Regions from separate parts of the Homo sapiens genome. Here region 2 is linked to region 1. The links come from fine-mapping of genetic effects on gene expression. A gene starts in region 1. The other region holds a variant in brackets. All regions are shown on one strand. Distances are between the middles of the regions.

What was found. PIP is the estimated chance that this variant, and not a neighbour inherited with it, causes the effect. A credible set is the group of variants that fine-mapping cannot tell apart.
Region 2: its variant is the best candidate, but not a certain one, in a credible set for the expression of ASPA in putamen (GTEx, PIP 0.82).

The regions. Positions count from the first base shown.
Region 1 is chr17:3,471,850-3,481,096 of GRCh38, reverse strand. ASPA (aspartoacylase) reads right to left here and starts at 5,100. Exons shown (of 6, transcript NM_000049.4): 1 at 4,702-5,100. The coding sequence starts at 4,937. It also overlaps a transcript of SPATA22 not described here.
Region 2 is chr17:3,497,409-3,513,498 of GRCh38, reverse strand. TRPV3 (transient receptor potential cation channel subfamily V member 3) reads left to right here. Exons shown (of 18, transcript NM_145068.4): 18 at 1-2,997. It overlaps ASPA (aspartoacylase), which reads right to left. Exons shown (of 6, transcript NM_000049.4): 6 at 10,094-14,608. The coding sequence ends at 14,411. It also overlaps a transcript of SPATA22 not described here. Among named protein-coding and RNA genes, the nearest start is that of ASPA, 29 kb to the right of the region's middle. RefSeq lists an enhancer at 2,962-3,500. The variant G/A (reference allele first, on the strand shown) is at 5,036.

The DNA.
Region 1 (9,247 bases):
GGCTGGAGTGCAGTGGCCCAATTATGGATCACTGTACCCTCAAACTCCTGGGCTCAAGCAATCTTCCCATCTCAGCCTCCTGAGTAGCTGCTGAAACTACAGGTGCGTGCCACCATGCCCAGCTAATCTTCTTATCTTTTGTGGAGATACAGTCTTGCTCTGTTGCCCAGGCTGGTCTTGAACTAAAACTGCCTTTGCAAAAATTATAACTGAGACAATTATTACAATGAAAGAGATCTAACCTGACTCCATCTTGCTTCTAATCTCCAAGCTATCCTTGTTCATGCCTGGGTGTAAACTGAACTAACTTTGGGAGGAACTTACAGCTTAACTTTGAAACAAAGATGATAACAGCCCTTTCCCAAAACAAGCCCCCTTCCTACCTGGGGACTAGACTGCCTTTGCAGGACTAACAAATTAGCCACAAGATGAGAAATTATGGTTTAGGAGTCATGCAGCTGGAGGGCCGCAAGATTCTGAACCTCCTGAAATTGCTCCTGGGGATAACATCACTATTGTAAAACCTAAGATCAGGGCTTGAGATATTTTGTAAACCCTGAGTTGACAGATCAGCTGGCACCACCCAGATGGATAAACTGGCTTATCTGGTCTCGTGGTCCCCACGTAGGAACTGATTCAGCGCAAGAGGACAGCTCCAACTCCCTATGATTTTACCTTCAATCTGATCAATCAGCACTCCCGACTCACTGGCCCCCTACCCACCAAATTATCCTTAAAAATTCCAGTGTCTGAATTTTCGGGGAGACTGATTTGAGTAATAATAAAACTCTGGCCTTCTGTACAGCCGGCTCTGTGTGAATTAAACTCTTTATTGCAGTTCCCTTGTCTTGATAAATCAGCTCTGTCTGGGCAGCGGATGAGGAGAACTTGCTGGGTGGTTACAGAAGTCTTGGCCTCAGGCAATCCTCCTGCCTTGGCCTCCCAAAGTGCTGGAATTACAAGTATGAGCAGCCACACCTGGCCTAATTAGAGATTCTTAATTGAGGTCCAGGAACCACTAGAGGTCCAGGGACAGAGTTTTCAGAGTCTAACCTCTCCAAAAAGGCCACAAGTTTGCAGGTACAGATATATGTATTTTTTTTCTGGCACAAGGGCCAGTAGTTTTTCTTCCATTCTCAAATGGGCCTCTACCCTCTCCCCACTTCCCACAATGGTTAAGATACATTTTTTTTCTAGATATAATAATGTTTTTCATTTACTTTTCCTCATTAAACCGTTCAACCACATTTTCCTAAAATTCCATCTATTTGTATTCCTTGGTTATTTTTGCTAGTATCTTCAAGGGACCTACTGTGTACAATGGGCTAATTCCTGCCTGGAATGAGATCAGGAAGGTGGAGTAGTTATTTTGTGACTTTGAAGCAAAAACCATGAGGACAAAGCCGGCATCTTGAGATAGTGCACTGGGAAGGTAGAAGGGACCACGTCGAGTCGGTGCAGGGGGAAGGTGGAAAGGGCCACGTTGAGATGGTGCAGTGGGAAGGTGGAAGGGGCCATGTTGAGACAGTGCTGTGGGAAGGTAGAAGGAGCCTGTGGCATTGATGATATCATGTGGCCGCTCCATCAGCCCTGGACAGCCTACTTCTGGACTTATTATTTGTGAACAAGAAACCCTTATTTGTTTAAACCACTATTCTTAGGTTCCTATTGTATGCAAACCAAGCCTAATGGATATTTATACATTTTAAAAGTTAATTCATGAAATAACCCCCTGAGGTCGCGCCCGACAATTTTGGTTCTATATCATTCTTCCGCATTTGAGTAAATGGTGCTAGTATCTACCCAGTTGCTCAGAGTCAAGTCTGGAAGTTTTCAAAAAGATGGACACTTTTGAGTTCTCATGCCTGCAGTTGAGCTCCCATTGGAAGAGTCCCAAGGGATGAAGAATAGGGAAGAGTGAGATTCTGAAGGGCATTAGCCATACTAAGTTGATTAAATCTATTCTGGATACATTTTTAAAGAATTTTCAGCAGGGGAGAGACATGATAAGATTTGCATATTAGGATGATTCCTAGAGGTATCAGATGGAAAATAGATGACAGGAAGGGTCAGAGCAAGTCTGGATGCAGAGAGACCCTTTAGGAGGCTATTCTAACTGTCCACAGAGGAAATCAACTAAGGTAGTAAAACTGGAGAGGAAGGCTGGATTTGTGAAGTACTTGCAAGGAATAATTGGGAGGACTTAGTGACCCACTAGACGTGGGAGACAAAGGACTGGGAAGGTTCTAGGGTGATTTTCACAGGGGACTTGGTGGATAATGATGCCACCACTGAGATGAGGAATATAGGAAAATGAATAAATTTGGGAGAGGCAGGATGGGAGAAGTTAATTAGTTTATCTATTTTATAATTTTTCAACCACGCTGGGAACAGTCTAGTCTCTGAACAGTGTTAACAGTAAGGAGCAGAAAGTGAATTTAAGTGAAAAGACTGTGCTCACTGAAATGCATACTACTGGGTGCTCATAAACTCACCCCAGTCCATTTCACACCTATTTGGGAAGTTAATATGCCGACTAAAAGTTATCCTTCAACAAATTCTTACTTGTAATATAGAAGTTAGTTAACAGCTCTCTTAGGTCAATAGATAAGCATGAATTGTGTTGACATAACCTCAGTCATGAAGATAAAGCATTTCTCAAATTAAAATTTATGCTAGTAAAAATATGATTTGATACAAACAGGATGACTGCAGTATAATTGCCCTGAAAAACATCTATTCCATAAAGTGAGGCATGTTTCTATTAAGAGTAGTGTCCATGTTTTGATCTGTGTTGAGACTAAACCTAAGGAGTGATCTAACTCAAATTAGAGTTGATCAGAAAACAAGCACATAGAACAGTGGCTAGTTGTGCCTGTGCATATCTTATATATATATATATTTTTTTTTTTGAGACGGAGTCTCGCTCTGTCACCCAGGCTGGAGTGCAGTGGCACCATCTCTGCTCACTGCAAGCTCCGCCTCCCAGGTTCACGCCATTCTCCTGCCTCAGTCTCCCGAATAGCTGGGACTACAGGTGCCCGCCACCATGCCCGGCTAATTTTTTGTATTTTTTTTAGTAGAGACGGGGTTTTACCGTGTTAGCCAGGATGGTCTTGATCTCCTGACCTCATGATCTGCCTGCCTCAGCCTCCCAAAGTGTTGGGATTACAGGTGTGAGCCACTGTGCCCGGCCATGTATCTTATATCTTAGCTAGTAGTCTACCAACTCCTTGAGGGGTAGAAACCAAGTTGTATAGAGCTGTGTACTCCCCCAGTACCTGGCACAGTTTCCTGAGAAAAACAGATGTTTCAGAATATTTTTTAGTAAAAGAAAAAAAGCGGCCCAGCGCGGTGGCTCATGCCTATAATCCCAGCACTTTGGGAGGCTGAGGCAGGCAGATCACCTGAGGCCAGGAGTTTGAGACCAGCCTGGCCAACATGGAGAAACCCCGTCTCTACTAAAAATACAAAAAATTACCCGGACATGGTGGCAAGTGCCTGTAATCCCAGCTACTCGGGAGGTTGAGGCAGGAGAATCACTTTAACCCGGAGGTGGAGGCTGCAGTGAGCTGAGATTGCACCATTGCACTCCAGACTGGGCAACAAGAGCGAAACTCCATCTCAAAAAGAGAAAGAAAGAAAGAAGTGGTAAAAAGCAAATATGTGGAGTCATATTATATCCACAGTGGTAGCTATTATGATGTAAACGAAGGCAAAAATAATTAATAAGGACCTAACCTAGCATGTTATGACTGCTTACGTTGTATGCAATATATTACAAATCAGCAAAATATAAGCTCTGAAAATTCAGATGGTGTCTTTAGTTCTCATCTCTGGTATCCCATCTACAACAATCCACCATGGAAGTTAAGTACGTCTGCTACTTCGGATCACAGGGAGGTCTGATGTCTTTATTTTTATTTATTTATTTATTTTTTTGAGACGGAGTCTTGCTCTGTCTCCCAGGCTGGAGTGCAGTGGCACAATCTTGGCTCACTGCAAGCTCCGCCTCCCGGGTTCACGCCATTCTCCTGCCTCAGCCTCCCAAGTAGCTGGGACTACAGGCACCCGCCACTACGCCCGGCTAATTTTTTGTATTTTTAGTAGAGATGGGGTTTCACTGCATTAGCCAGGATGGTCTCGATCTCCTGACCTCGTGATCCGCCTGCCTCGGCCTCCCAAAGTGTCTGATGTCTTCTGACAAAAGATATTTAATCACGCTTTCATTCAACAAATATTACTTGAAACATTACATTTTTTGAACTAGAACTTTATGCATTACCGTAAGCATAGTTGCTTGAAAACGTAGTGAATTTCCTAAAAAGCTAACAATTTTATATGCAAGCATAGTGGCCAAACACTAACTCAATGCAAAGGAGTATTAAATCTGTTTCTTTAAAGGTATGATTTTAAAACAAAACCCTTTTCTATTTATTGTCTCAGTCTGTATACATTTGAAAAGAAAACTTAATAATCTGGTGCTTAAGAAGGTTTATAAAAGAGCATGTGAATGCCCAGTTTAGATAATTGTGCAATTCACAATGCAGTATAATTAAAAGTGAAAGTGATCTTATTCAACATACGACTGCATGTACGGACATGAATTATCATCTGCATATACATATATGTGTTCTCTTTCACACACCTACCACTTTTCACACAACATACATACATATACAATACAAAGCATAGTCTTACCCAAGATTTTCAAGGTCAAAAATGCGATTCAGGTCACAGTCAATATATCTGGTACACTTCTTCACTGCTCTGGGGTTAGTAATAAATGGTTTTACCTCCAGCCCTGTTCTCTGAATCTCAGCGCCATTCTCTAGCCAATGCTTAACCAGAAATACTCCGGTTAGCTCATTCCCATGGGTTCCTCCAAAGATAGCAACCTTTTGTATATGTTCTTCAGCAATGTGACAAGAAGTCATTTCACCAAGTAGTTTTTATCTGATTTCTGCAATTCAGAAGAGAGATCAAAGGAAATTCGATTTTCTTAAGAAAGGTTTAGAAATGTAAATGAGACTTTACCCAAAGGGCAAAGTACAGAATTCCCTTGAGTGGAGTATATTTTAATTTTCTGTTACAAGTTCTGAGCCCCGTTTATGGACACTCCCTTCTTTAGCCCTGCCCTTTGCCATATTTGGATTAAAATATGCAAAGATCAACTAGAGATACAGCTGTTTACTTTAACTTCTAACTCCCTCAGATGGTCAGTAGATCTAAATACAGTAATAAATTAGCATTTCATACTAATACAAAAATTCCATTCTTTTCCTCAGCTAGGATGTCATCCAGTGAGGCTTTCACAATTATCTGTAATAATAAAAATAGTTTATACGTTTCTAATTTCACAAAATAAAAAAGTGGCCCACTCAGTATTTCCACGGGCATTTCAAAACATTTCTTCTCTGAAATGAGTTCAAGCACTTTTCATGATCTGAGGGCATTTGAATCTCACCTCTATAAACAGCCAAAGGCTGACCCTCAGAGACCTCCTCTTGAACCGGCGCCCATTCTTTCAGAATGCTTTTTCACAATCAGAAACAGAAGGGCCAAATCAATGATCACTTGGGACTCGAAAAGCTACCCTGAAACATCCCTTCATTTCTTTCTCATGAGGTTTTTGGTAATTCTGTGTTAACTTACTTATGAATCTTCCTCATTTTTTGCCTAAATACCAAAGGAAAGACAACTGTTAGTACTTTTCAAGTTTTTGTGATGCCTGAAAATGTCTTGGGACACACTGCATGTGCTAACCACATCATGTGAACTTACATAGACACAGCCTTATTCACTGTCAGCGGGGACTCTCCACTGGACTGTGTTACTCAAAAAGGGGTCTTATTAGGGGAAATTTTCCAGAATACTAAGATGATTACATCCCTTTGGAGAAATGACTCTGAGCCAAATCTGATTTGATTTCATGCTCAGTCACCCAGAAAGTCACATATGTTCAAGTACTGGGAATACCATGTACTAGTAACGCCAGGTTGTTTGATAGAGGGTACAATAAGAGTAATTTATTACAATTGCAGAGTTTAATTTATAATGTCCTTTCACTCAGTTTATTCATACATTAATTTTATACGATAGGGTGGGTTAGGTGTTGACATCCCCACTGCAGGGGTAAACGAAAGAGAGGTTAAGTAACTCAGTTAAGGTTCTGCAGGGATGTAGGAGAACCTAGGCCTGAGACCCATGTTTCTCATCCCAAGTCTAGTGTTTTTCACAGGACAATAGGGTGCCTCTCTGTTATTTTTGGTCTTCTTCACAGTTCTAGTTTTGCTCTTTCAGAATTCACATAAACAGCCATTACAGTGTGCTCAGGAAACAAACATGCATACAAACCAAATACATGGTGGAAAAATAAAATATGAATGCTTCCTAATATTTAATAAACCCACTGAATGTTCTTCCTTTAAGAGCTTATAATGCAGAGATAGAGAAAGCAAAATAACCACATCAAATCTATGCATTAAAATGACTGTTCTAATAGAAAAAAAAAGCTCCTGTAGGCTTTGACTGTCTGTCCACATCCATGTACACTGAACACTTCAGACGGTGTAGAGATGATGAAAACACACGTAAAAGTAAACAGATGACAGTTGTTTAGTTGCTTTGGTTTTAAGAGCAGTAACCATGGTGAATTATTAACACTCTACTATGCTTGGTTTCTTTTCTGCTGATTTGTAGTTTGTTCTGTCCTTTGCCCTAGTCTCTCTGGAAATGCTGCTTCAGTTATTTACTCGTAGCTGGCACAAATGACTTGCATTTTGAAGCTTGTTTTATGGAATTTTAACAGATCAGCACTTTGAAGCACATTTCACATTCATAAATAAAGTTTCTCTTACATGTCAAAATGAATAACTTTTTTGAGAGTTAATGAATTGCAGCAATTATTTCCCATACTTACCTTGTTTTTTGTGTACAGAGTTTGTCTTCTGTGGAAAGCTTTATTAGGAAAAAGGAGAGCATTTCCTCAGAAGTAGAGCAACAGAGGCTTTTCATACTCTTATACCAAGTTAACTTCCGAAAGATTTTTAACTCCCTGTTTCCCAAAGTGTACTTGATTTTTGGGATGACCCAAAAAACCACACTTTTTTATTAGTTCTCAGCGAACTGATAGTATACGAAGTGAAACCCTTTCGAATTGTCACTATCTCATTATTAAGTTGAATATATAATATTCTGAAGTACTTAAAAGAGTAAGCATAACTTCCAGCATTACAAATGTTTTGTGGGATAGAGTTGCCTGATGTATTAATAAAATAATGTAGTTTAAAACAAAAGGATGCCAGGTGTGGTCTCATGCTTGTAATCCCAGCACTTTGGGAGGCCGAGGTGGGCGGATCACCTAAGGTCAGGAGTTCGAGACCATCCTGGCCAACATGGTGAAACCCCGTCTCTACTAAAAATACAAAATTACCTGGGCGTGGTGGCGGGTGCCTGTAATCCTAGTTACTCAGGAGGCTGAGGCAGGAGAATCACTTGAACCTAGAAGGCGGAGGTTGCAGTGAGCTGAGATTGTGCCATTGCACTCCAACCTGGGGAACAAGAGCGAAACTCCGTCTCAAAAACAAAACAAAACAAAACAAAAGGAGAGCAGAGTTTTACTTCACAGTCATGGCTGTCCAGTAGATCCCTGCCAGAAATTTTGTAGGAGACAAATTTAAGGTGGGTTGTTTCCCAAATGGTATGACTGGGGGATAAGAAGGGTTTTTTGTTAAATATTATACATAAGATGTCTCATACATAATGTGATGTTCAGTAGTTATGTAATCAAACTACTTTTACTACTTTAGTTTTCTCCTTCCCTGTGATCCATCCTGACCAACTTTCCAGGTGGAAATAAATAAGCAGAAAAAGACAAGTATAAAACAGATTAAGTTTATAAACTGCTAGCAAATATTCTATATTGCTCATGTCTGCAGTCCCTACAGAAGTAATCGGCTTAAGGTGGTTTTTTTTTTTTTTTTTTAATGAAAAATCTATTTTTGGGGTGGGTGGGTGTGTGTTGTAAATGTATGCACATCCGTATGTAGATATCAAGTCAAAATCTGCTTCCCTGAAGCTTCTATTCATGTTTTGGGTAACTCCTCTCTGGAACCATGATAAATAACAAGTTTTATTTTTATTGTTCAAGTCTTCTTCTTCCCAAAATAAAAGATGGCCCTATTCCTTGAAAGCTGTTCCTTACTCTGGCATTCAAGGTCTGCTATTATCTGGTCTCAGTCTACATCTAATATTATTTTCTAACACTCTTCTTTACTTGAGATAGTTTTAAAGCAACTACTAAAATGTCTGTGGTCTTATAGGCCTAGGCCTTTACTAACAATCTTCCTTTCATCTCTAAGCCCTTCCCTATCCCAGTCTTCAAATGGTTAGAAGATACGGTAACAACAAAACATGGGCTTTGAACTCAGACAGCTCTAGAATCCACTACCTGGCCCATAGTAAGTTCCGGATAAATGGCAGCTACTGTTACTCAAATTAAATAAGGGCTAACAGTTACTGGGCATTTACTGTGTGCCAGGATTGTCTATTTCATCTTCTAGTATTTTTAGGGCGATTGTTGTTATTGTTCTTTTACTGGTAGGTCCAGAGGGTGTTCAGTAAGTAACTTGCCCAAGGTCACAGGGCCAGGAATCCACAGTCCTCTTTGCCAGGAAGCCTGGAGCTCAACGCCCAGGGTCGCACACCACGCGGCTTCCCCTGCAGAGCGTCTCTGCGGCTCACGGGCGCTTCCCTCCCGCAAGCTCCCGCAGCCCCGGCGCTGCCTCGCTGACGGCTCTCCGCCTTCCATGGCCGCCATCTGAACCTGGGCTTCAGCTCTGTCCCCAGCCTCCCGGGGACTCAGATTCCCTGACCCTGATCCGACCCAGAAATTGAGCCAGACACCTCGGGTGGCCTTCGAGTCAATCTCTGGGCACACTCTGGGTGGCCACCAGCATCTAACAAACGGATGTCTGGACCCTAAGGGCCAGGGGGTGAGGGGAAGTGGGGCACACTTTTTAGACGATGGTGGGGCTGAGGCCGGTTGGGCAGGAGATCTGCCTCTGTCTCTCCAGTCACAGGACAGTCTCCTTTCCTCTCTGGGCAAAACTCTAAGGAGCTGGAGCCATCCCTGGGTCCACAGTGTGAGAACGCCAAGGAAGAGCGTTAACGTCATCGCGCCCGGCCAAGGGCGGCCAGGCAGGCAGCGAAGATGCCATCGCGCCGAGGTGGCGGCCACTGCGCC
Region 2 (16,090 bases), 29 kb before region 1:
ACATTGTACCATCTCTTCTGCTGTGACTGGGTTGCCTGAATTTGTGGGAGACCCGTGATCCCATCCCAGAGTGTGCGGGGGACGGAGGTAAGCTGGATATCCTGGGGGAGGAGGGGAATGCGCTCTGGAAACACCCTTCCGGAACCCTTCGGGGAAAAGGAGACCATCCTTGGAGTGAACGTCCCCTGACACCCCAAGGTTCAAACTGTCTCAAGCTGAGAGATGTTTTTAGTAGCAGAATTAACACAGGGTTTTAACTTGCAATACGGAAAAGACATTTCAGTTGAGAATGAAAATTACTACAATGAAGTTTGTGATTTTAAAAGTGGAGACAGACTGGGGGCTTTGGGGCTGGATGTAAGTATTATATATTTGGCCTCAGGGTGCCCAGAGCAAGACAAAAAGCTTTTCTTCACACACACAAAAGTCTGCATGAGACACTCCGGGCAAGTCCTGCTGGGCCGCCGCGATCTGGGTGAAAGGTCCTGGCTCTTTTCCTCGTCCTGACCTCACAGTAGCGCGTGCCTGTGTGCTGGGATCGTGGCTTTCGCTGAAGCAGAAATAGCAGCTGCTCGATCGATATCATCTTGGAACTCAGCAGTTAGTCGCATACCTCAGTATGTCTCAGTGGGGGAATTTAACAAAATGCCTCAACTGCTTTGGTACGAAGTATTTTTTTTTTAATTTTAACTGTGAATTTTGAAGCTGAAGGGGAAGCTTGTGAGAGAAAAGCATTTGCCAAGACTTTGAGCTTATTTTTAGGTCCTCGTCCTCTGATGTTCTCTTTCTGAAATGACACGGAGTCAGTCTGGGGGGCAGAGGTGAAGTGGAGACGGAAGGATTTTCCAGGTGACTGGGGCCGAAACCACCAGAAAATCCACTCTGCCGCCGTTATCTGGTGAAAGGATTCATGTAAAAATGTTCGAGGTGGAATTATAAAAATAGTAACCATAAATGTTAATCTTAAATGGCAGAAATAGAAATTTGGCCTTCAGATAACATGGCGATAGATAAGTTCATCTGGCTTGAGGCAAACTGAAGAGTCGGGGCCTAGCAGTGCACTCTGGGCCAGTTTCTCTGCCCTGGGCCACTCTGTGTGCCAGACTAGCTGGACAGATAGAGACTTTGTGCCCCTGATGGGGCCGATTGGGGAGAGGTGGGCTGGGGTGTGTGAGGCTTCACAATCCACAGCAGCCCCTGCCCTCCCAGCTGACCCAGGGAGTAATCGCGTGCTCTAAGCCACAGTGGTCGGGGCTGGGCATGGGCCTCTGGAGAAGAGAAGATTTGAGGAGAACTGTCCTAGAGGCAGGAGGAGCAGATGTGTTTCAGAATGGGCAGAATTAGGAAATTGAGAAAGATTTTGGCTCAACAGAATCCAGCAACTGCTCCAGATGTTGGAGATGTTTAAGCAGAAGCTGGTTGCGCACTTAATGAGGAATGTTGTTGAAAATGGTCATTGGAAGAAGTTTAAGGTCCCTTTTAGCCTGGAGATTGTACAAATCAGCATTCCACATCTGGAGTTAGCTACCCGCATTAAGCCTGAACAGACATCTTGGTCTGAAAGGAAGTGGTTTGGATTCATGATGCCAAGCTCCACACTATGGAGCTGGGAATTCCAGAATTGCTTTGACTCAGATATTAATGGAGAAAGTCATATCCATTAATGGATAAAGCCGTATCTGTTATGGATAAAGCCGTATCCAGAGTTGCTTTGACTCGGATGTTAATGGATAAAGCCAATTATTGATTTCTATTTGCCTAACCTGCCAGCTTTTGTCCAAGTGGGGAATGGAGAGCCATAGGGATGTTTGTCATCTCACATGTTTTGGTGATCTGCTGTCTGTGGGTCTGGATGGAATTTGTTGGCAAGACCATTTTCTGTATTGGATATTCTTCCCAACAGTGTCCACCCCAAAAGGCTTTCAGCCAAAACGTCTGAGCCTAGGTAGGTTTACCAAGGGAAGCCATAAGTCAAGAAGCATCAGAGTGAAAAGGAGCACTTCCTTCATTTTACGCCCAGAGGCTAATGCTCCGAGAGGAATGTGTACTTGGGCAAAGTCATGCAGGAAGGTCATATCAGAGCTGTGGAGGCTGGAGTGTCCTGATTCTTGGACCACAGATGTCTCCCTGAGCCATTATTTATTTATTTTTAAAAAGCACAGTTATTCCATCATTTTGAGTCTTTGTATTTCGCTTATATTGGGGGGCAGGACTATTTTCTCAGGTGTCTCATTTGGCAGTCAACATTGTCCCCTATGTTCCCTATGACTAGTTGAAAATTCAAGTGTGCCCACAGGGGTGCACAAAACCACACCCATGCACACACACACCCTCAGCCCCCACACACACCCCGTTGAACCCGTGGGTCTATCAGGACATCCTAAAACTCCGTGATTGACATTTCAGTAATTTCAGGGGAAGGTGTTTTCCAGGGATGGGGTCTCCCAGGTTCAGATAGTGCCTTTGGCTGCAAATGCTCCTTTAGCTAAACTTTTCCTCAGGAAGAATTCATTATTCTAGACATTATGTGATATATCTGTTAGGAATAAAAGGTGCTTAACCTTCCTCCCTGGGATGTGGGAGAAGGTGCTGGAGGTTGTACTGTGAAGTCTTCAGGCTCTTAGAAGGCTCCAGCCTGAGAGAGCCCTTTATTATTGACATTCCTGTCCTTCCTCAAGGCCTGGTGACCTGTGACCTTTCGCTCTGGGCAGGGCCCAGGTAGATGGGCCGTCATCCGGGCCTGTAAGCCGTACTTGATTTCTGCATTGATTTACATATTTTTTACTGTGATCTTGGTTCCAAACACAGAATCGTCACCCCATTCTCCCTTGAATGTGCCGGATCCTTGTAAATTCTCATTTACCTACTTGTTCTTAGTGTGTATGTGTGTGCGAAACTCTATGTTCAAGAAAGAAATCATACAAAGAGTAAGAACATGTTTGTGCCATTGAAGAAATGGTTTTTTGATTTCTAATAAATATTTGTTTTGCCTCGTTATGGCCACGTTTTATCCTTGCGTTAGGTGTGCCAATGTGCAGATTGACTAGAAACCCTAGAGTGTTGTTAACAGGAGTGGGTAAAGGGAAGGCCCGTTTTTGGACCTGAAGCATTATCATTGGTTCCGGCTTAGGAACAGAGCCAGCAAGCCATAAGGCATGTCACCTTTGTACGTATTTGCATCTCAAAGCGCATTCACATCAGGTAGTCAATTCGAACCACTCAGCAGCTTTGGAAGCAGTTTCAATAAAAGGAGACTCACGGGCTTGAAGTGATGTGCCCAGGGATTCACAGCCACATAATGTCAGTGGTTCAGGCCATGAAAGCCCTCAAAGAGTGCTCTATCCACTTCTGCACAGCAAAACAAACTACCATCAGAGTGAACAGGCAACCTACAGAATAGGAAAAAATTTTTGCCATCTACCCATCTGACAAAGGTCTAATATCCAGAATTTACAAGTAACTTAAACATATTTACAAGAAAAAAACAACCCCATCAAAAAGTGGGCAAAGGATATGAACAGACACTTCTCAAAAGAAGACATTTACGTGGCCAACAAACATATGAAAAAAAGCTCATCATCACTGGTCATTAGAGAAATGCAAATCAAAACCACAGTGAGATACCATCTCACGCCAGTCAGAATGGCGATTATTAAAAAGTCAGGAAACAATAGATGCTGGAGAGGCTGTGGAGAAATAGGAACACTTTTACACTGTTGGTGGGAATGCAAATTAGTTCAACAATTGAGGAAGACAGTATGGCGATTCCTCAAAGATCCACAACCAGAAATACCATTTGACCCAGCAATCCCATTACTGAGTATACACCCAAAGGAATGTAAATCATTCTACTATAAAGACACATGCACATATATGTTTATTGCAGCACTATTTACAATAGCAAAGACATGGAACCAACCCAAATGCCCATCAATGATAGACTGGATAAAGAAAATGTGTTATATCTACACCACGGAATACTATACAGCCATAAAAAGGAATGAGATCATGTCTTTTGTAGGAACATGGATGAAGCTGGAAGCCATCATCCTCAGCAAACTAACACAGGAACAGAAAACCAAACACCACATGTTCTCACTCATAAGTGGAATTGAACATTGAGAACATATGGACACAGAGACGGGAACAACACACACCAGGGCCTGTTGGGGGGTAGGGGGTGAGGGGAGGGAACTTAGAGGATGGATCAATAGGTGCAGCAAAGCACCATGGCACACGTATACCTATGTAACAAACCTGCATGTTCTGCACCTGTATCCCCCCCTTTTTTTTTTGGAAGAAATAAAAAAAATGAGGGCTCTATCCATCATGGCTGTTGGCTGTCAAATTATTTTGAGTGAATAGAAACCCATGGTTCCACCTGGAGAACAGAAGGTATAAATCCCTCCTGTCCACCACGCAGGCTTTTCACAAGGAGGCAATGAGAGAATAGATAGGAAAGAGCTGATGTTCTTACTATCATTATTGCCGATCAGCCTAATTCATAGGTATATTCAGTTCTTCATTCCTTTGAGTGATTTCATAAGGATGGCAGTTCTTAACTTGAATGCCAAGTCTTTTTTTTTTTTTTTTTTTTTTTTATACTTTAAGCTTTAGGGTACATGTGTACGATGTGCAGGTTAGTTACATATGTATACATGTGCCATGCTGGTGCGCTGCACCCATTAACTCGTCATTTAGCATTAGGTATTTCTCCTAATGCTATCCCTCCCCCCTCCCCCCACCCCACAACAGTCCCCAGAGTGTGATGTTCCCCTTCCTGTGTCCATGTGTTCTCATTGTTCAATTCCCATCTATGAGTGAGAACATGCGGTGTTTGGTTTTTTGTCCTTGCGATAGTTTACTGAGAATGATGATTTCCAATTTCATCCATGTCCCTACAAAGGACATGAACTCATCATTTTTTATGGCTGCATAGTATTCCATGGTGTATATGTGCCACATTTTCTTTATCCAGTCTATCATTGTTGGACATCTGGGTTGGTTCCAAGTCTTTGCTGTTGTGAATAGTGCC[G/A]CAATAAACATACGTGTGCATGTGTCTTTATAGCAGCATGATTTATAGTCCGTTGGGTATATACCCAGTCATGGGATGGCTGGGTCAAATGGTATTTCTAGTTCTAGATCCCTGAGGAATCGCCACACTGACTTCCACAATGGTTGAACTAGTTTACAGTCCCACCAACAGTGTAAAAGTGTTCCTATTTCTCCACATCCTCTCCAGCACCTGTTGTTTCCTGACTTTTTAATGATTGCCATTCTAACTGGTGTGAGATGGTATCTCATTGTGGTTTTGATTTGCATTTCTCTGATGGAATGCCAAGTCTTGACTGCTTGTCTTGATGGGTTGTGGAACTTGCAACCAATTTGTTAATAAGTGAAATACTGCATTTGGTGAATTATTTACTTAATTCAGATGATTCCCAGAATAACTTCCTTCACTGGGATGTATCTTGTTGAGTGGCAGCAAGACAGGGATTGTACGTGATTCACATCCTAGCTTAATAGGCGTTAGTCCAAAACCTAGGAATGTGCCATCCATGGGGATGTTTTGGGTGGACGGGTAGAAAAAGGGTGGAAACCCTTGTCATAGGATATATTTCTGGGAAGGAGATGCCTAGGTCAATTGGTTTCAACATTTTTATGGTTCTTGATACTCTGAGAAATTACCTCCCCAAAGGATTCCTTCAATGCGTTCAGCCTTTGAGATTGTATGCTACACTGTTTACAAAGCTCTTCCGGTCATGTTGGTTATTGTTTTGTAGGTTTGGTGAGTGTCGTATCCCAGTTTAATAGGTAGGGAAATCGAGACTTGGAGACAGACGGAATGACATGCGAAGTTCACAATCCTTTCTCCTGGCTGGAGGATCCAGGTTCTCTGAAGTTTAGTTAGTCTAGTATCAAGAACTACCATTTTTCTCACTGCACCAGCAACCCCTCTGACAGTAACAGCAAAGTTCTGCAGAAAGGATTCAGTCCAACTCAAAAAATGTATCTCACTTACTATGTGTGAAGATTTAGAACCAATTCAACAAAAATTGAACATGAAGTATGGGCAATGATAGATGATACAAATATAAGTAAGACAGTTTCTTCCATTTAAGATGGTGGTAGGAGGGGAGAAGGACATGAATATTTATAAAGTGCCATGCACTTTACATACATGTCTCATTTAATGTTTATAGCAACCCTTGTTACTGTCCAGCTGTTCTATTTCTTTCATCGGTTTTCTGTTTTATTTTTTAAAACCATCATATTTTGTTATTTCAAAACCATCATACTTCTTAAACCTGTGACCCCACCATTTCCATATCAATAGCTGTAGTAGGTTTTATCCCTTATTTTACAGTGAAAATGGAAGCCATAAGTTGGAAACACCTTCAACTTGTGACCACCAAACCTGTGAATTTATTTGCACCCACATTCCTAAGCTTTGGTTGCCTTCGCCTCCCCACTCCCTCCTCCCCTCCCTCCCTTCCTCCCTCCCTTCCTTCTCTTTTCCTTCTCTCTCTCTTTCTCTCTCTCTCTTTTTCTGTCTTTCCGACAGAGTCTTGCCTTGTCACCCAGGCTGAAGTGCAATGGCATGATCTCGGCTCACTGCAACCTCCACCTCCCGGCTTCAAGCAATTCTCCTGCCTCAGCCTCACAAGTAGCTGGGACTACAGGCACCCGCCACCAAGCCCAGGTAATTTTTTGTATTTTTAGTAGAGACGGGGTTTCACCATGTTGGCCAGGCTGGTCTCAAACTCCTGACCTCAGGTGATCCACCTGCCTCGGCCTCCCGACGTGCTGGGATTACAGGTCCCTGTGCGTGGCCCTGCCTTTCACTTAGAGCAAGAAAACTCCTGTCTAGGGACCTCTCTCTATGCTCTCTATGCTCTTGAGCTTTCTTATGTTTCAAGACTGTGAAAGTTATTCTTTCCCTTAATATGTAGTTTCTAAAAATGACGTTTTTCTGTTAAACATTTAGTCTATCTGTAGCTAATGGGGCTTTAGTATTTTTTTCCCCTTAATTATACTACATTAATCCCCTATAGACCTCAGTTTTTTGGTTGACTTTGTTTGCTAGTCAAGTTCCTGTTCTTTTCTTGGCAGAATGGGGGAAACTTTAGTGCTGTTTTTGCTTTGATGGGATGTAAGCTTCTGGGCTGTGCCATTGACTTTGTGGTGTGTGCAGGTACCTCCCTGGAGTTTCATATTGTGCAACCCACCAAGCCTGATGGGGCAGCCCTGGGCGAAGTCCTCTCTGAGTGACCCTCTCAGTCATCGGCTTGGTAGGTGTTCAGGAACTACTGTCTGCCAAGTACTAGACTAGGGTTTTTGGTGTGTCTGCTTTGGGAACAGGCATACAAAGGTCTCTACAGGTAGATCACAAGCCTCTTGAAGGCAGTATGTGTGGGAAGTATAGAGATATTAGAAAAGCAGCCGGGCATGGTGGCTCACGCCTGTAATCCCAGCACTTTGGGAGGCCAAGGTGGGCGGATCACCTGAGGTCAGGAGTTCGAGACCAGCCTGACCAATATGATGAAACCCCATCTCTACTAAAAATATAAAAATTAGCCAGGCTTGCTGGCGCATGCCTGTAATCTCAACTACCCAGGAGGCTGAGGCACGAGAATCGCTGGAACCCGGGAGGCAGAGGCTACAGTGAGCGGAGATCATGCCACTGTACTGCAGCCTGGGTGACAGAGTGAGACTCCGTCTCAAAAACAAAAAAAAAAAAACAAAAAACAACAAACAAACAAAAAACCCCTAAGCAGCTATTTCCCTCCAGACTCTGTTTTTGTCGGATATGCAAATATGGGCCTTCAGACGCTCCCTGGTCCTGCTGCCCTGGAACATCCATGACCCGTATAGGCCTCTCTCCCTGGTCACCCCCATGGGACTCTCAGGCTTCAGGGTTTCCCCAGCTGCCACTTTTCATTTGCTCCTCCTATTGGAGCACTGCCTGTATGTGGTTCACCATTCCCACTCTCTGTGGTCTCCAGTGGCTATCTTGGGGTCACCCTTGTGAGGGAAGTGACAACCCGCTCTTCCAAAGAAGCCCTTCCAGATAGCTTCACACTCAGCAGAGCAACTCTCATTTATCCAGCAAAACGCACTGAGCTCCTTCTATGCGTGAAGTGCTGTGTGTACGACAAAGAATAAGACAAATGCTATCCCTGCTTTCTTGGAGCTTTTGCAGTTTAATCAGAGACAGACAATAACTTCACCTGCCCCGGTGTCATAAAGCATTACGGTTGCAATTTGGGTAAGTGCCAGTCTAGTACTGGCAATGAGCTTGTATAACAGAGTGGCCTAACCTAGCCTGAGTCATGTTTAAGAGTAGCGTCATTTAGCTAATGGAAGTGTGGAGATGGGGAAGCGTTTCAGTAAGTGGGAAAATGTGGGCAAAGGTGGTAGGGAACTTTGTGCATCTGAGGACTGGAGAAGTCTTATGTGGCCAAATTGCTGGGAGCAAGGGGCCAAGTGACATGAAATAAGGCTAGAGGGGTGGGCAGAGGCCAGTGCATGTAGGACTTGGACAGCCGTGGTGAGGCTTTGAGATCTCATAACAAGGGTAAGAAGCCACCAAAGGATTGTAAACAGGGGAATTGTTGAGTGTGAACATTTCCTTGTTTTAGCCTGGTGCGGCGGCTCCTGCCTGTAATCCCAGCACTCTTGGAGGCCGAGGTGGGTGGATCATCTGAGTTCGGGGGTTCGAGACCAGCCTGACCAACATGGAGAAACCCCGTCTCTACTAAAAAAATACAAAATTAGCCAGGCGTGGTGGCGCATGCCTATAATCCCAGCTACTCAACAGGCTGAGGCGGCAGAATCGCTTGAACCCAGGAGGCAGAGGTTGCGGTGAGCCGAGATCATGCCATTGCTCTCCAGCTTGGGCAGCAAGAGTGAAACTCCATCTCAAAAAAAAAAAAAAAAAAAAGAAAAGAAAATTTCCTTTTTTTTTTCCCATGGATTTGCAGACTTAAATGGTTGTTTTTTCCTTCCACTGTCCTTTGGGACATAGTAACAGTCTGGAGGGTGTAAAACGAAGTGTTTCACTTGGGAGTGATGGGGACAGTTCTCAGGAGGTGACTGGGAAGGAAGATAAAAAGAAAGGCAGGGCCATTGGTGGAAGATGAAGATGTTCCAGTAGAGAAGGGATGTTTGAGCATGCTCATTTATTCAACTCACCTCTATTGGTCACTTTCTAGATTGTAGACATCGAAAAAGACACTGCTGATGCCCTCAAGATGGGATAGAAGGAGGGGCAAAGTGGCAACAAAGTCAGGTCGACGAAGACCATGTTGGCTATGAAATGAAAGTTGGGTTGCATTTTGAAGGAGAAAAAGGCATTATTGGCTAGAGCGCAGTCTGAGGTGGGGTGGGAGGTGGAGGACAGTGGGGGAGAGTTCTGGGTAGGGGAGTCAGTCTATGTAAAGGCCTAGAGGAATAAACAGTGGGAAGGACACTGGAGTGGAGATGGCCCAAAGGGAGATGAGTGTAGGGAGGCGTCGGGGAGGGAGGGCAGATCAGGAAGGGCCTTTTGTGCTAGGAATTTGAACTTCAGTGATTTGTTAAGTATGTATTCTGTGCTAAGCACTGAGCTAAGTGCTTATATGTCTTAGCCCACTTAATCCTCACAGTAACCCCATGAAAGGGGCACTATTATTATTATCATTCCCATTTTATAAATGAGAAAAATGCAAATGTAGATTGTTAGAAATAATCAAAGTAAAATAAAACTCAAAGTGGCTAAAACCACACAGCAATATGTTATAGATTAAAAACAAACAAACCAACCACACATCTAATTAGAAACTTTAAAGACTGTAAAAGGGAAGATTAGACTTGATAGGAATAATCAACCCTGAAACCCACTGAAACCACAGTGATATAAATTGTACACTGTAAATTTTACAAATAACTAAAATTTGAGGGAAGAATATTCTTGCCAAAATTTTCATCTGGAAAAAGCTGACCTAGAAAAATTGGACTCAGAAATAGGACACAACGGAACATTCACAGCAGGAGAAGGAAGCTTGGTAAATCTTATGTACAAAAGCTGATAAATCACATTTTTACTACAGAATTCAGAAGGAAGAGAGTTTATTCCAATGTAAATAATTTTGGTAAAGTACAAAAATAGAAAAAAATGCTGAAAAATTTAGAAAGAATATGGGCTTTCCAGAACACTGAGTATGGAGTAAAACTGGCATAGTGGGGTTCACTTTGGAAGAATGAAAATGTATAAATATATAATATTTATTCATTCATTCATTCATTCATTCATTCCAGATAATGTTAGTATTTTTGGTAAATACATTTGAAACTATGATTATGGATTCATTGGGGGTACAGATCATGGAATAAAAACACTCTTTATTGGCTGCTGTGGCCTAAGAGGATGGCGGGGAGGGCCCTGGTGGGGCTGGAGAGGGAGGGGGCGGCGTCCAGCAGAAGGTCCTTTGAGGAGAAGAATCATGGGAGGCAAGGGGTTTGGGCATTTAGGACATGGCAGGACTTCTTGAAAGACTGTATTTGCAAACCATAGCTGTGGGTCACATTTCTATGTGTGTCCAGTGCCCTGTTGTTGACTTTCACCACCTCTGCTGGCAACAGCTGGAGCCCAAAGACCTCCTCACACCTTGCCTGCGAATAAGGGTGGGCATATTCTTTCAAAATGAGAAGTGACAGCTGTGAAGAATAGGCCTCTTCCAAATTTTCCATGTTGGGAAGAAACATTAGCTCCTCAGGGGGTGCGTGAGGTGTCTGAAGGAGGTTCTCTGCTCCATGAGGTCAGTGCAGAGCAGTGGGCATGCCACAGTAGCAATGCTGTGTGGGTTACTGTTTGTGGACAAAGGGCCATTCAGTTTCTTAATATAGTCATATGTCATCTTTACCATTAAGCCCTTGTTTCTCTTTCATATTTCATCTACAAAACAGCACTTAAAAGTCTCCTCTGGATTTCGCAACGAATGCTGAAGTTTATAGACTGGACGCTTAGTATATTACCATTAACCCAAATATAAAAATTGAAAAAAATAGCAATTCTGCACAACTCATTTCTACTAGCACTTATACATTACAGGCATACCTCAGAGATATTTCAGCCTTGGCTCCAGATCACCACAATAAAACAAACATTATAACAGATGAGCCACACATATTTTTTGATTTTCCAGTACGTGTAAAAGTTATGCTCACACTATATGTAGTATGTTAAATGTGTAATAGCATTATATCTAAAACATGTACATTCCTTCATTAAAAATGCTTTATTGCTAAAAAAGCTAACCATCATTTGAGCTTTCAGCAATTCATGATCTTTTTGCTGGTGGAGGGCCTTGCCTTGATGATGGCTGCCTGATCAGGGTGGTTGGGCACTGAGGGTTGGGATGGCCGTGACAATTTCTTAAAATAAAACAACAAGTTCGCTGCATTGATTGACTCTTCCTTTCGTGAAAGATTTCTCTGTAGCATGAAATGCTGTTTAATAACATTTTATTCACAGTAGAACTCATTTTTTTTTTTTTTTTTTTTTTGAGATGGAGGCTTGCTGTGTCCACCAGGCTGGAGTGCAGTGGCGCAGTCTTGGCTTACTGCAACCTCTGCCTCCTGGGTTCAAGTGATCCTTCTGCCTCAGCCTCCCAAGTAGCTGGGACTACAGGCACGTGCCACCACGCCTGGCTAATATGTTGGTATTTTTAGTAGAGAGGGGGTTTCACCATGTTGGCCAGGCTGGTCTCGAACTCCTTACCTCAGGTGCTCTGTCTGCCTTGGCCTCCCAAAGTGCTAGGACGACAGGCATGAGCCACTTCTCCCAGCCGAACTCATTTCAAAATAGGAGTCAATCCTCTTAAACCCTGCTGCTGCTTTATCAACTATGTTTACGTAATATTCTAAATCCTTTGTCATTTCAACAGTGTTCACAGCATCTGCAACAAGAGTTGATTGCAGCCAAGAAACCACTTTTTTGCTCATTTATAAGAAGCGACTCCTCATCCATTCAAGTGTGATCATGAGATTGCAGCAGTTCAGTTACATCTTCAGGCTCCACTTCTCATTCTCTTGCTGTACATCTGCATGACTTCCTTTACTCAAGTCTCGAATTCCTCAGAGTCATCCAAGAGGGTTGGAATTCACTTTTTCCAAACTCCTGTTAATGTTGATATTTTGATCTCCTCCCACGGATCCTGAATGTTCTTAATGGCATCTGGAATGCTGAATCCTTTCCAGAGGTTTTCTGTTTACTTTGCCCAGCTCCATCAGAGGAATCACTATCTATGGCAGCTATAGCCTTATGAAATGATTTTTTTCTTCCTTTCTTTTTTTTCTTTTTTCTCCCCTCCCCCAGCCTGAAATGTATTTCTTAAATAGTTAGATTTGAAAGTCACAATGACGCCTTGATCCATGGGCTTCGGCTGGATGTCGTGGTAGCAGGCGCGAAAACAATGCTAATCTCTTCGCACATCTCCAGCAGAGCTCTTGGGTAACATGGTGTATTGTCAATCAGCAGTAGTATTTTGAAAGGAATTTTTTTTTTTCCCAAGCAGTAGGTCTCAACAGTGGGCTTAAAATATACAGTAAACCATGCCGCAAACAGATGTGCTGCCAGCGAGGCTTTGTTGTTCCATTTATAGAGCTCAGACACAGCAGGTTTAGCATCAGTCTTCAGAGTCCTACGATTTTTGGGCCGGGCGTGGTGGCTCATGCCTGTAATCCCAGCACTTTGGGAGGCCGAGGCAGGCGGATCATGAGGTCAGGAGATCGAGACCATCCTGGCTAGCAGAGTGAAACCCCATCTCTACTAAAAAAATGCAAAAAATTAGCCGGGCGTGGTGGCAGGCACCTGTAATCTCAGCTACTGGGGAGGCTGAGGCAGGAGAATGGCATGAACCTGGGAGGCGGAGCTTGCAGTGAGCCGAGATTGCGCCACTGCACTCCAGCCTGGACGACAGAGCAAGACTCCGTCTCAAAAAAAAAACAAAAAACAAGAGTTTTAGGATTTTTGAAACAGTTAATGAGCTTTGGCTTTAACCCAAAGTCACCAGCTGTGTTAGCTCTTAAGAGAGTCAGGCTGTCCTTTGAAGCTTTGAAGCTAGGCATTCATTTCTCCCCTCTAGCTAGGAAAGTCCTAGATAGCATCTTCTTCCAATAGAAGGCTGTTTCAACTACACTGAAGATCCGTTGTTTAGTGTAGCCATCTTTGTCAATGATTTTAGCTACATCTTCTGGATAACTTGCTACAGCTTCCACATCAGCAACTTGCTGGTTCGCTTTCCACTTGTAGGTTTTAGAGCTGTCTTCTTTCCTTAAACCTTGTGAACCAACCTCTCCCAGCTTCCTGCAGCTTCCTCACCTCTCTCAGCCTTCACAGAATTGAAGAGAGTTAGGGCCTTGCTGTGGGTCATGCTTTGGCTTAATGTGTGGCTGGTTTGATCTTCTATCCAGACCACTAAAACTGTCTCCATATCAGCAATAAGGTTGTTTTGCTTTCTTATCATTTGTGTGTGTGCACTGGAGTAGAATTTTTAATTTTCTTCAAGATCCTTTTCTTTGAATTCACAACTTGGCTAACCAGTGCAAGAGGCCTAGCTTTCAGCCTGTCTCAGCTTTTGACATGCCTTCCTTACTAAGCTTAATTTCTAGAAGTATGACCCTTTCTTTCACTTGAACACACAGAGTCTGCTGTAGACTTATTAATTATTGTGTCTCAAGGAACAGGGAGGCCAGAGGACAGGGAGAGAGACAAGGAAATGGCCGGTCAGTAGAGCAGTTAGAACTCACACAACATTCACTAAGTTCGCAGTCTCACATGGGCACGATTCATGGTGCCCCAAAACACTTAACAACAGTAACATCAAAGGCCACTGATCACAGATCACCATAGCAGATATAATAAATAAATCATAAAAAAGCTTGAAATATTATCAAAGGGTGACACAGAGACAAGGAGTGAGCACATGCTGTTGGAAACATGGCACTGTTAGACTTTCTAGACACAGGGTTGCCAAAAACCTTCAATTTGGAAAAAAAGTACAAGTACAGTATCCGTGAAGTGTAGTAAGGCAAAGCACAATAAAACAAATAACTTTATATATATCTATTTCAATTTTATATTCTGAATACAAAGGCTGTTTATTAAGAATGTTGAGCTACCCAAGTATCATGTATAATAAACTATATAGAAATAGGAAACACTTCTTTGAATAAGCTACATACATAAAATATGATATCTTTAAAGATATATTAATTAATTTAAGAAATGTGCTTAGATGCCTACCGAATAAGGCACTGTGCTAGGAGCTATGTATGCAGTTGAATAAGGCACAACCCTACTCTTAAGGAGCTTACAGACTAGCAGAATTTGTAAGACACCGTGTAAGATGTAAGCTGGAAGTGATTTCTAATGTAAACAGCAGCGAATACTTTTTGCATTGAGCGTTAGTTTAGTTGTCTTTGCAAAAGCTTCTTTCTTTTCGTAATATGCGGCCTCATTCACAAACACGGGGTACACGGTACAGTCTCCGCCCAGTGGGATCGTCTTCCCATCAAGAGTTAAAAACATGGGATCCCCAGGATGCAGTGGTTTCCAGTCTTGATCCTCTCAGGAAACAATCAAAATAAATATATTATATTTGGTTTTTCTCCTCTAAAAATTTATGTCAGACTCTAGACAACTAACAAATTACAGTATTCTGTTGTTTTAAAAGAGATACTTGAGCGAGGCATTGAGATGCAGGCAAGTGATCTGACTGCGCTGACATTGGGTCGTGAATTTTGGCAGTAGTTTTAAGAGTTCCCCTTTGCATTTGTATAATTGAAACGTGTAATTAACATTTGCTTCAGCCAGGTGCAGTGGCTCCTTGCCTGTAATCCCAGCACTTGGGGAGGCCAATGTGGGTGGATCGCTTGAGCCTAGGAGTTCAAAACCAGCCTGGGCAACACAGAGATCCTATCTCTAGAAAAAATACGAAAAATTAGCTGGGTGTGGTGGTGCATGCCTGTAGTCCCAGATACTCAGGAGGCTGAGGTGGGAGGATTGCTCAAGCCCCCAGAGGTTGAGGCTACAGTGAGCTATGTTCACACCACTGCACTCCAGCCTGGGTGACAGAATGAAACCCTGTCTCTAAAAAAAAATAAAAAAGAGTTTGCTTCAATACCAGGTTTACCTTGAATGTAGCCAAAGAGATTTATAATATTAAAAGGCAAAACTAAATGCATGTCTACCTAAGTGCATAGTCTGCCTGTTGCCAGCTCAAGTTAAATTCTGTTCAGCAAAATTTAGGAAATATCCATTAGGAGTCTTCTGTGTGCAAGACATTCTACCGTTGGGAAATATAAAAATGAGCCATGTTGTACCTGCATACAAGGAGATTCTATTCTGACGGGGATTGGTGAGAGAAGGTGGTGCTGGGCTGGGGAGAGTCTGGGACAAGGTGGGTGTATTCCAAATGTGCTCCTACATTAGGGTAACAACTGAGTTATCTGAAGGGTCCCGCACCAGGGATTTGGACCTTTGAGCCCTCAAGCACCATGGCTGTCACACCACGGGAACCCCAGAACAGTTCTTCTCAAACTTTGAGGTGCTTGTAAATCATCTGGGGATTTTGTTAAGATGAAGATTCTGATTCTATAGGTTGGGGGTGGGGGCCTGGGATTCTGCATGTCTAACATTTCCCAGCAGCATCCGCATCACCCAGGAGCCTGTTAGAAAAGCAGGATTTCATTATGCGCAGCAGACCTACCAAATCAAAATCTTCATGTTAACAGGTCCTTGACGTTCACGTGCACGACATTAGTGTTTGGGAAGTGCCGCATCACCGCAGTTTTCTCCATCCTGGTGGCACATTATGATCGCTTGGGATGTTAAATACATATATACAGGTAGAGGGGCTGGCCCATTTCAGATAAATCAAATCAGAATCTGAGAGGAGGGCCTAGGCATCATTATTTTTATATTTTATTTTTAAATTTACCTACAGTGAAATTCGCTCATTTTTGTGTGCAGTTCTATGAGTTCTGACTTGCAGAGCATGGAGTCATATAACCCGCAACCATGCCATCAGGATACGTGCTTCTTTCA